2 separate regions of the Homo sapiens genome follow, and region 2 is linked to region 1. The links come from fine-mapping of genetic effects on plasma protein levels. Region 1 holds a variant in brackets. A gene starts in the other region. All regions are shown on their forward strands.

Region 1 (5,374 bases):
AGAAAGAGCTGGAGAAAGGCTGTAACCCCATCATTACCAAGCTGGACCCAAGTGCAGGAGGACCGCCAGGAGGCTCACCTGGGGGAGTCCCTGGTCATGGAGCTCCTCCCTCTACTTCCCTACTTCCTCAGGGATTCAGCCATAGAAAAGAATGAAGGACTGCTACAAGCCACAATGGGATGAGCCTCAAAACCACGATGCTAAGAGACAAAGCCAGTCACAAAGAAACACGTAGTGTCCCTACTTCCTCAGGGACAACCATTTAAGAGGTTGATTAGGTCGGGCATGGTGGCTTACCCCTGTAATCCCAGCACTTTAGGAGGCCAAGGTGAGCAGATCACGAGGTCAGGAGATCGAGAACATCCTGGCTAACACAGTGAAACCCCGTCTCTACTAAAAATACAAAAAATTAGCCGGGTGTGCTGGTGGGTGCCTGTAATCCCAGCTACTCGGGAGGCTGAGGCAGGAGAACGGCATGAACCCAGGAGGCGGAGCCTGCAGTGAGCCAAGATGGCACCATTGCACTCCAGCCTGGGCGACAGAGCGAGACTCCATCTCAAAAAAAAAAAAAAAAGAGGTTGATTAAGCCAACCCCAATATAAAGATCACATGATTCCACATAGTCAAAACATTGAAGAACCCAAATTTGTAACAAATTCTGTGGCAGTTTTAATGCTGAGCTGCTAGGGGCCAGGTGTAGTAGCTCATGGCTGTAATCCCAGCACTTTGGGAGGTTGAGGCAGGTGAATCACTTGAGGTCAGGAGTTCAAGATCAGCCTGGCCAACGTGGTGAAACCCTGTCTCTACTAAAAATACAAAAATCAGCTGGGCATGGTGGTGCACACTTGTAATCCTGGCTACTCGGGAGGCTGAGGCAGGAGAATCGCTTGAACCCGGGAGGCGGAGGTTGCAGTGAGCAGAGATTGCGCCACTGCACTCCAGCCTGGGTGACAGAGTGGGACTCTATCTCAATAAATAAATAAATAAATAAATAAATAAAGTCGAGCTGCTAGAGTAAATTACTGGACATTCTCAATGCTTATATGGAACATGTGGAAGTAACATTGTAGTTTATAAGCACTGTATTCTAAGTGGAAAATGCAATGTCTTAAATAAAACTATTTAAAATTGGCACCTCCCAAAAAAATAGCCAATCTGGGTGGCAGGCACCTGTATTCCAAGCTACTCAGGAGGCTGTGGTGGGAGAATGATTGCTTGAGCCCAGGAGGTTGAGGTTGCAGTGAGCCATGATTGCTCCACTGCACTCCAGCCTGGGTGATGGAGCGAGACCCCATCTTGAAATAAATACATAAATAAAGTGGACAATTCAGCAGCATTTAGTACACTCACAACATTATGAAGGTACCACCTCTATCAAGTTCCAAAACTTTTATTTTTCCTTTTTACTTTGATAATTGGAAGCATTGATCATTCCAAAACATTTTTATCACCCCAAAAGGAAAAGCCCTGTATCCATTAAGCAGTCACTCCCCATTGCCCCTCCCCCCAGCCCCTGGCAACCAGCCATCTGCTCTCTGTCTCTATGGGTTTCCCTATTCCGGACATTTCATATGAATGGAATCAACACTACGTGTTTCTTTGTGACTGGCTTTGTCTCTTAGCATCGTGGTTTTGAGGCTCATCCCATTGTGGCATGTATCAGTCCTTCTTCTTTTCTATGGCTGAATCATGTTCCCTTGTATGGATACCCTAATTTTTTTTTTTTTTTTGAGACAAGATCTCATTTTGTTCCCCAGGTTGGAGTGCAGTGGCACAATCATGGCACACTGCAGCCTCAACCTCCTGGACTCAAGCAATCCTCCCACCTCCGCTTCCTGAGTAGCTGGGACTACAGGTGCATGCCACCACTCCAGGCAATTTTTTTGTTTGTATTTTTTGTAGAGACAGGGTCTCACTATGTTGCCCAGGCTGGTCTCGAACTGAACTACTGACCTCAAGTGATCCACCCACCTTGGCCTCTCAAAGTGCTGGAATTACAGGTGTGAGCCACTGCAACTGGCCAGATATGCCACCTTTGGTTTATCCATCCATCCATCCATTGAGGACCGCAGGGTGTCTCCGTTTGGGCTACTGTGAACACCCAGGCATCTTTGTGGCTGGGAACAGGAGAGGTGTGGAGAGCAGACAGTGAGTCAGAAGAACTAAAAAGGGAAATTTGGGAACTAGAACTGGGCTTTGGCCACCGAGATCAAGTCCTGATTTTACCTCCAAACCGTGTCTTGAATCCATCACTTCTCCATCTCTGCCACCACTTCCCCATCCCAGGCCACCACTATCTCTCCCCAGGTCGGTTACTGCAGCCTCCCTTCCGGCCTCCCTTCTGCCACTCCCAACTCCCTCATCCCCAGGGTTCATTCTCCACTGAGCAGCCGAGGGATCCTCTTAGAACTTTCATGAAATCAAGTCATGGCACCCTCTTGCCCAAAGCCTTTCCATGGCTCCCCATGGCCTTGGGAGCAAGTCCAGACTCCATCCCATGGGTGACAAGGCCCTCCTTATCCTGGCTGCTGGCTACCCCTCAAGCCTCTTCACACATGGTTTACTCTCCTCACGCTTCGCTGCAGCTGCCTGGCCTCCCTCTCTTCCCAGAGTGCGCCAGGCTCCAGGCCCTTGCATGTGCTGGTCCCCTTCCCAGGAGGCTTCCTCCTTCACTCAGCCACCCCTCATCCTTTAAGTGTTCACTCAGCCATTGCCTCTTCCAGGAAGGTCTGTGACCCCAACCCTTCCCCTCCCGCTAAGTCAGAGGCCTTCGCTGCTTCCCATTAGCCATTCTTTCAACCAGTATTTACTGGGCACTGCTTTGTCCCAGGCACCAGGGATAGAAGTTAAAAAGACAGGCAATGGCCAGGCACAGTGGCTCACACCTGTAATCCCAGCACTTTGGGAGGCCAAAGCAGGCGGATCATTTGAGGTCAGAAGTTTGAGACCAGCCTGGCCAACATGGCGAAACCCCATCTCTACTAAAAATATAAAGGTAGCCGGGCATGGTGGTGCTTGCCTGTAATTCCGGGGTTCTCAGGAGGCTGAGGTGGAAGAATCACTTGAACCTAGGAGGCAGAGGTTGCAGTGAGCTGAGATCATGACACTCCACACCAGCCTGGGTGACAGAACAAGACTCTATCAAAA[A/AAATT]AATTAAACAATTAATTAAATGGTTAGTTTTGCAGGGCATGGTGGTTCACACCTGTACACTGGGCTTTTTTTTTTTTTTTTTTTGGAGTCCCACTATTCAGAGGCTGAGGCAGGAGGATCACTTGAGCCTGGGAGGCCGAGGCTACAGTGAGCCATGATCCTGCCACCACCACACTCCAGCCTAGGTGACAGAGCAAGACTCTGTCTCTAAATAAATAAATAAATAAATAAAATGGTTAGTTTTGCTGGGCGCAGTGGCTCACACCTGTAGTCCCAGCCTCTTGGGAGGCTAAGGCAGAAGAATCACTTGAGCCCAGGAGTTCAAGACAATCCTGGGCAACATAGCAAGATTCCATCTCTATGTAAAAAAAAAAAAAAATAGTTTTATGTTATAGGAACTTCACCTCATTTAACTTATTATTTTTTTAAAGACAGACAAGACAAGTGCCCCTGCCCTTCCTGACCAGAGGGGAAAATAAGTAAATAACATTCGTACAGTCCATGAATTGAAGTTAAGAGCCCAGGAGAAAAATAAGCAGGGCAAGAGGATATGAATTGTTCATGAGGATGGGTTGCAGGGCTTGTCATTTTACTAGGAGGGGACCGAGGAAGGCCTCCTTGAGAAGGCAGCCTTTGAGCAAAGACCTGAAGGAAATAAGGGCACAAACCATGCAGATGGCCAGGGAACAGCGTTGTTGGCAGAGGGAACAGCACATGCAGAGGCCCGCAGGCAGGAGGCCATGTGGCTGCAGCAGAGAGGAGGGGAGAGGAGAGATGACATCATGGAGGCCTGTGGGCTTTTCTCAGGAGGTTGGGAAGATGTGGCAGGACCCACAAAGGAAATGAGAAGATACAGCCAGTGACATAGGAGAAAAACCAGGAGAAGCCAATTGCAGGTCACGTATCTGGGCTTGATAACTATGGATGTACCCTTGGCGGGCTTCTCCCCACATTGGAAGGCAGGTCCAGGAAGGCAGGGGGTTTGGTCTGCCTTGTTCACCGCTGTGTCTCAGCACCTGGCAGTGCCCAGGACATAGCAGGTGCTTGGTGACGAGGATATGAGTCAGTGGCTGACCTGGTGTCCCCTGGCCCCGCTGTTTGGCATCCAGATCTCAGTCTCTGGACTGATGGCAGTGATGCCCCTCTTCACCTAGCCACCAGCAGGGGCAGATGGTGGTCCAGGTGGGATCTGAGGCGGAGCTTCCTTCCACCATGGCCACCCCACCCAAGAAGTGGGCTGAGCCAGCCACCCACAAGAGGGAACCGAAATCATCCTCCACCACAAACACGCTGGCCTGGCTCCACACTGGGCAGGACATGGAGGAAGGGGGAGCGATAGTGAGGGCCAGAGTCCCTCCACTTCAAGGGTCCCCTTCCCCTGGTATATACATGGGAAAAAGGAGACACCAGCCAAGGGCTGGGTTGCTGTGTGTGAGTGAATTTTGCTGAAGTCCCAAAGACCTGGAAGGTCCTGCCGGCTCATCCCCTGCCTCAAGTGCAGGGGTTTTTGTTGTTGTTGTTGTTTTAATTTTTTTTTATTTTTTTATTTTTTTGAGACAGAGTCTCACTCTGTCACCAAGCTGAAGTGCCGTGGCATGATCTCAGCTCACTGCAACCTCTTCCTCCCGGGTTCAAGTGATTCTCATGCCTCAGCCTCCCGAGTAGCTGGGATTACAGGTGTGCACCACATAGCCTGACTAATTTTTTTTGTATTTTTAGTAGAGACAAGGTTTCGCCATATTGCCCAAGTTGGTCTCAAACTCCTGAGCTCAGGCAATCTGCCCACCTCGGCCTCCCAAAGTGCTGGGATTACAGGTGTGAGCCACCACACCTGGCAAGTGCAGGATTTATGAGTCCTGCTTTAAAAGGTGGCACATGAGACATGGTGGCTCTCACCTGTAATCCCAGCAGTTTGGGAGGCTGAGGCGGGAGGAATGCTTCAGGCCAGGAATTCAAGACTAGCCAGGGCAATATAGCAAGACTCCCTCTCTACAAAAAATAAAAATAAAAATTAGCTGGCCGTGGTGGCATTCACCTGTACTCCCAGTTACTTGGGGGACTGAGGCAGGAAGATCACTCAAGCCTGGAAGGTCGAGGCTGCGGTGAGTGATCACGCCACTGCATTCCAGGCTGGGCGACAGAGCAAGACCCTGCCTCAAACAAACAAACAAAAAAAGCTGGCATTGGCAACTTCTCCCTTTATCCTTTTGTCCCTCCTTTAAGGGAG
Region 2 (5,374 bases), not on the chromosome of region 1:
CCATTCACATCTCTCTGCCACTAGTGCCTACATTGTACTCCAGGCCACTGTTGTTTCCAGCCAGATGCCCACAATGGCCTCTCTACCCGTGTTCATACCATTCACAATCCATCCTCAACAAGTGGCCACTACATTCTTAAAAACAAGTCATGACAGCTCTCTGAGCTCTCTAGTAGCTTCCTCTTATACCTAAATTCCAACTTATGGTCTTCAGGGCTGCTTGACTCTCCAACCTCCTCATTCATTGCCTCACACTCCATATAGAGTGACTAAATAAGCCTTATACAAGCCAAGCTCCTTCTGACCTCAGGACCTTTGCATATTCAGCTCTTGCGACAAAGTGCTCTTCAAAGCACCCAGATTTCAACAGGGCTGGAAAATGCTCACCATTCAGGGCTCTGCTTGGTGTTGTCTGCTAAGGGAGGTGTTCTCTGACCCCCAGTACTTCAGTAGCTCCCCCACCACCGAGTCGCTTACTAGTTCATGAACACCTCTAGTTATTTGCAATTATTTGAAACAGTTCCTAGTTTCTTATGAACACCTCTTGTTTTCTGCAATTATTTGTCTGGATAATAAGTGTGCCTGTCATCTCCCATAGTGCAGGATTGTGAGTGTTTTTGCTCACTGTCTCCTTAGAGCCTAGAATAGTGCCTGCCCCATAATAGGGGCTCAATGAATTATGTTGAAGCAATGAGTGAATAAAACACAGCACAGACAGTGCCAAGTTTGAACCTTATCTCAGCCACCTGCTAGCTCTGGGACCCCGGACAAGCTCAGAGTCACACTGGGTTTTCAGGTCTCATTATCTTCATCTGTAAAATGGTGACAATAGTGCCACGAATAGTGCCATAAAGGCACTCTGAAAACACTACAGTGCAACATGACCACTGATGGATTATTATCCTTATTATCTCTGATGTTAGTGGAGTGTGGGGCAGGAGGGACTCCCTCCACCCGTCCCAGAGCCACTGCAGCCTGCTCACCTGGAGACACATCCAGCTGGAAGCCCATCAAGGGGTACAGGATCCCAGAGGTGTTGCGCATGCACCAGTATCGGCCTGAGTCCTGGAGCTTGAGGGCCACCATGGTGATGTTGACCACCTTGGCCTGGGCATCGTCCTGCAGCAAGTAGCGGGGCCCTTTCACCCAGACTCGGGCAAAGCCAGGCTCACACTTCTTCTTCCTGATTTTGCACCAAACCTTGCCCTCCACGCGGTTTTTGTAGCCCTTATAGGAGCACTGCACAGACAGAGTCTCCCCTTCAAGGAGCCTCACTTTTGTGTATACACTGTCAGCAGAGGGGCCTGTGGAGACAATACTTATTGAATAAGGTCTGGCAAGAGGAGAGGAAGAAGACATCATGAAAGTTGAAGATCATGGTGAAGGGTAGAGTGGATATTGTCCTGCTGTCACAGAACCCACAGATTGAGGGGGAAATACAGCCCCGCCTTCAGGGAGCTTGCCCCAATCTGAAGGGAGGTGAATGGGCCCTGAAAACAGCTAGCTTCCAGTATTACAGTGGAGACACAACCCCCGCTCTCAGGGAGCTTTCAGTCTGATGGAGGAGGCAGGTATATCCCTCAGTGAGTCCCCAGTCTAATGGAGGAAACGCAGCATTTACACTCGGAGCTCCATCAGACACAGCCCCTTTCCTCATGGTATTTTCTAGTCTGATGGGAAAGTGACAAGCTCTGTCTTCAGGGATTCCCAGGGAATTCATTTTTGTTTTGTTTTGTTTTGTTTTGTTTTGTTTTTGAGACGGAGTCTCGCTCTGTTGCCCAGGCTGGAGTGCAGTGGCACGATCTCAGCTCACTGTAACCTCCGCCTCCTGGGTTCAAACTATTCTCCTGCCTCAGCCTCCTGAGTAGCTGGGACTACAGGTGCCTGCCACCACGTCCGGCTAATTTTTTGTATTTTTAGTAGAGACGGGATTTCACCATGTTAGCCAGGATGGTCTCAATCTCTTGACTTCGTGATCCACCTGCCTCGGCCTCCCAAAGTGCTGGGATTGCAGGCGTGAGCCACTGTGCCCGGCATCCCAGGGAATTCTTGTGGGAAAAACCCAGGTCATGCCCTCAGTGAGACAGATGCAGAGACACAAACACAGGTCATTAAGTTGTGAAATTTCAGTGCCCAACTAACTAGGTAGATAAGAAAATCTAGTATTTGAAAATATGATTAACAGTTATTTATTTCACAAATAGGTTCACTTAGTCCTCTTTAAATAATAACTCTCCTTAGTTCATTCCATCTGGTGTTTAGTTTTAAAATATTCTAGTTACATAAAACCCATAGATCAAGCCTGTCTAAATATACATGTAAACAAACTCCCAATGGAGTGTGAACCACAGGATTCTACAATTATTCACTTTCCACCTGCAATATCTTTCTCTCTATGCTGAGGAGTAAGATGTGGTCCAAGCCTTCATAATCCACAGTCTGGTAGAGACAGAGCAGAACTGGGGTGTGCAGGGTGACTCAGGGGACAGAGAGAGGGAGAAAGCTGCCTTGGGCTCCCTCCACCCCTCTGCCTGCCTTAAGCTCAGCTGACTCTTCTGATAATTTCACCCCAGAGTCTTCCAAAAAAACCACATATAAAAAGACTCTCCCCCATAGTAGAGAACAGAGAGCACACATTTTGGAGTCAAAATAAACAAGGGTTGAAACCCTGTTTCTACCACTTAGTGGTGTGATTAGGTCACCTGTTTGATACAGAAATATCAAAACAGACACTTGACTGATACAGAAATATCTCTGTTTCTTTATCAGTCAAGTGAGAATAGCACCACACCCCTCACAGGTTGCTGTGAGAATTCTGCCCCAGGTCAGTGCTTTGCACACAGTGCATGCTCAACTCATGCTTCCTTTTCCCACATGCTGGGGCCTCCCAGTTCCCCCAATGGAACCCAGAGCTGTGACAGTCAAGGGCCCAGAATCCAGGACATCTGTCCCACCAGAATCCAGGATATCCGTCCCAAGTCCCAGCCAGCAGCCACTAGAGCTGAGGCTCTGTGTGAAGCAGCACCCTCTCTAAGCATCCCTCTGTCCCTTGCAAACTAAACAGAATGATCCAACTTCATTATTTGGTGGATGAGCCCAGGATTTCTTAGCACAAGAGAGACCCCTTTCTGCCCTGGCAGTGGGAAGCTGTTTCTCTACCCTCTGGGAGGTGCAGAGTTGGGTGACCTTGGGATGGGTCTCCAGGGCAATGTCTTCATGTGTGCCTACACCTCCCACCCCTCTCACAGGCAGTGGTGAGTTTTGCCAACCCCCACCATGCCCAGAACTGAACAGGAAGTGGTAACTTGGTTGCCATGGCAGCGAGAGGGGCAGGAATGGGTGAGGTTCCTCAAGGAGCATTGGTATCTGTGAGGTGGGAAAGGCATTCACACACTGGTCCCTTCAGGACAGAGGCAGGGACAGGATGTGGCATCAGCATTTCAAGAAAAATGTTCAAATTCAGTTCAAAACACACATGATGCAATGATTGCTGTCATAACTAAGCAGGGCTTCCTGACAGAGGCCAAGCAGAGAAAGCTATTTGTGTGAGGAAATTGAGGGCTCTGCTTTAAAGCCTGAGGAAGCCTAGCAGATAAAGGAGCCAATGCAGAGAGGGTCCAGAGCTTTATCTTGGCTTGGGAGGCCTGGGTTAGCTTCGCCTGGGGCCTGATATTAGGGTAAAGAGCTAAGTCAGCCCTAATCTCCTCCTTCCCCAACCCACAAAACACTAAACAAGAAAACTGCTGGTAAGGAGGGTAAGAAAAAGGCCCTGAGCTCCTGCCTCTGTACCCACTCCCTCCTCCACAAGTCAGCCCCTTCTCCCCTCACCTGAGACGCAACCCTGTGGCCACAGCAGCAGCAGCAGCAGGAAGGCTGGGGCCATGGTTCCATCCAGCTGGGCAGTGTCAGGCCTGGAGATCCAAGGTGAGGGCCCACCCGACACAGGATGTGCCACCTGGGCCTGCCAGGGAAGGACCCGGGGTTCTAAAAGTGAAGCTGCCCATTTAGGGAAGTGAGGCAGTGTGGGACCCACTGCCCCCAGCCAACCGCAGGGATTCATTGAGCCTATTATGAGGGCGGTGCTGGCAGCTGTTTCCGCCCTTTTCCTCGGAACTTCAGGCAGGTGTGGCTGCTCCACCCAGTCTGGGGCCCCAAGCCGGGAGGACTCACAGTCAGAGGGCTCCCCGCCCTCCCCAACCTCCCCCAGAAACTGGTCCCTAGGATCCAGCAAGGGGGCTGGGGTGAGGCTTCTGGAACGTCAGGTATAGACCTTCCTGGAATCTTCTGGGCTCAGAGACCCAGGGGTGCGGGCTCTTAGGCTGAGATGGAGCATCTCAGACCCTAGTTTCTTACATATATACATTCACAGGGAAGTTCTTATAAACTCTCATTCATTCATTCATTGCAGATTCTTTCTGTTCCTTCCTCTCTCTCTCTCCCAGGCTCCTGGCTGCTCAGAACAGTCACTTGTGTTCACTGTTGCAAATAACCTCTTACAGGCTCACTTGAAATCTTACTTTTGTCAAGCGGGAAAAATGCAAATTGTTAAGACTCAGGGCATAAATTTTGGGTTGAGGGAGGGGTTCCTGTACTCTCACACACAGGTGTGCATGCACATGCACTCACACTCACAGTCTCACTTTGTCTTTTATTCACTTTCACACACACACACACACGCCCATGCACACAGTCTCACACACACCCCAGCAGCCTCTCCTTTTCCCTATCCATACGTCTCCTCTCTCTGTCCCTCTCCCTGCCTCTCCTCCTGTCGACTCTACTCACCATCAGCTCCCTCTAGACTCCTAGTCCCTCGTGCAGGCTTCCTACAGCCTCCGCAGTACTTCCCCTCACCCACCTCATCTCAAGACCCCCTTCCTCCCCTGCCTCCAGCCTACGTCAGCACGCAGGCAAGTGCCCTCCACTTCCTCCTGCTCAATGCTATCTCGCCTGTACAGCCACCAGCTCCAGTGGAAATGACCCAGCACTAGGCCCAAGACCACACCCTTCACTTACCCCAAGGCCTAGAATCAGAAGCATCAATTTTTGATGTCCGGTACCTGTGTCATCTGCTCCTTCAGTGTGTGGGGACCCAGCTGGACTCCCGTGATTATGTATGCTCCCCCTACTCACTAGTGCCATGTTTCTACTCCTTAGATGGGACTGTCAAAAGGTAAACTGAGGCACAATAAAATTTTAAACAGATTATTTCAGCAAACAACAATTCATGAATCAGGCAGCTCCAAACAGAAGAGGTTGAGGAGCTCCACTGGGGGAATGCAAGGGGAAGACTCCTACAGGACAAGTAAACTGAAGAAAATATTTAATTAGTTATAGTTATATAGTTCCCTTATTTGGCCTATCCTGTTGGAAA

Direction of the effects. Positions count from the first base shown, and alleles are read on the strand shown. Strength reflects both the effect of a copy and how common the allele is.
With allele AAATT in place of A in region 1, the plasma level of the protein whose gene starts at base 4,024 in region 2 is lower (moderate association).

What was found. PIP is the chance, under the fine-mapping model, that this variant and not a neighbour inherited with it causes the effect. Protein levels are from antibody-based Olink assays in UK Biobank. Linkage for the fine-mapping came from a reference panel and not from the study's own genotypes, which makes the PIPs less certain.
Region 2: TREML2 starts here. The variant in region 1 is fine-mapped to the plasma level of the TREML2 protein (UK Biobank, PIP 0.95).

The regions. Positions count from the first base shown.
Region 1 is chr12:111,385,526-111,390,899 of GRCh38, forward strand. All of the region lies in intron 2 of LINC02356 (long intergenic non-protein coding RNA 2356), which reads left to right. It also overlaps the pseudogene HSPA8P14. Among named protein-coding and RNA genes, the nearest start is that of SH2B3, 18 kb to the right of the region's middle. The variant A/AAATT (reference allele first, on the strand shown) is at 3,148.
Region 2 is chr6:41,197,126-41,202,499 of GRCh38, forward strand. TREML2 (triggering receptor expressed on myeloid cells like 2) reads right to left here and starts at 4,024. Exons shown (of 5, transcript NM_024807.4): 1 at 3,829-4,024; 2 at 984-1,304. The coding sequence starts at 3,883. RefSeq lists an enhancer at 4,243-4,312.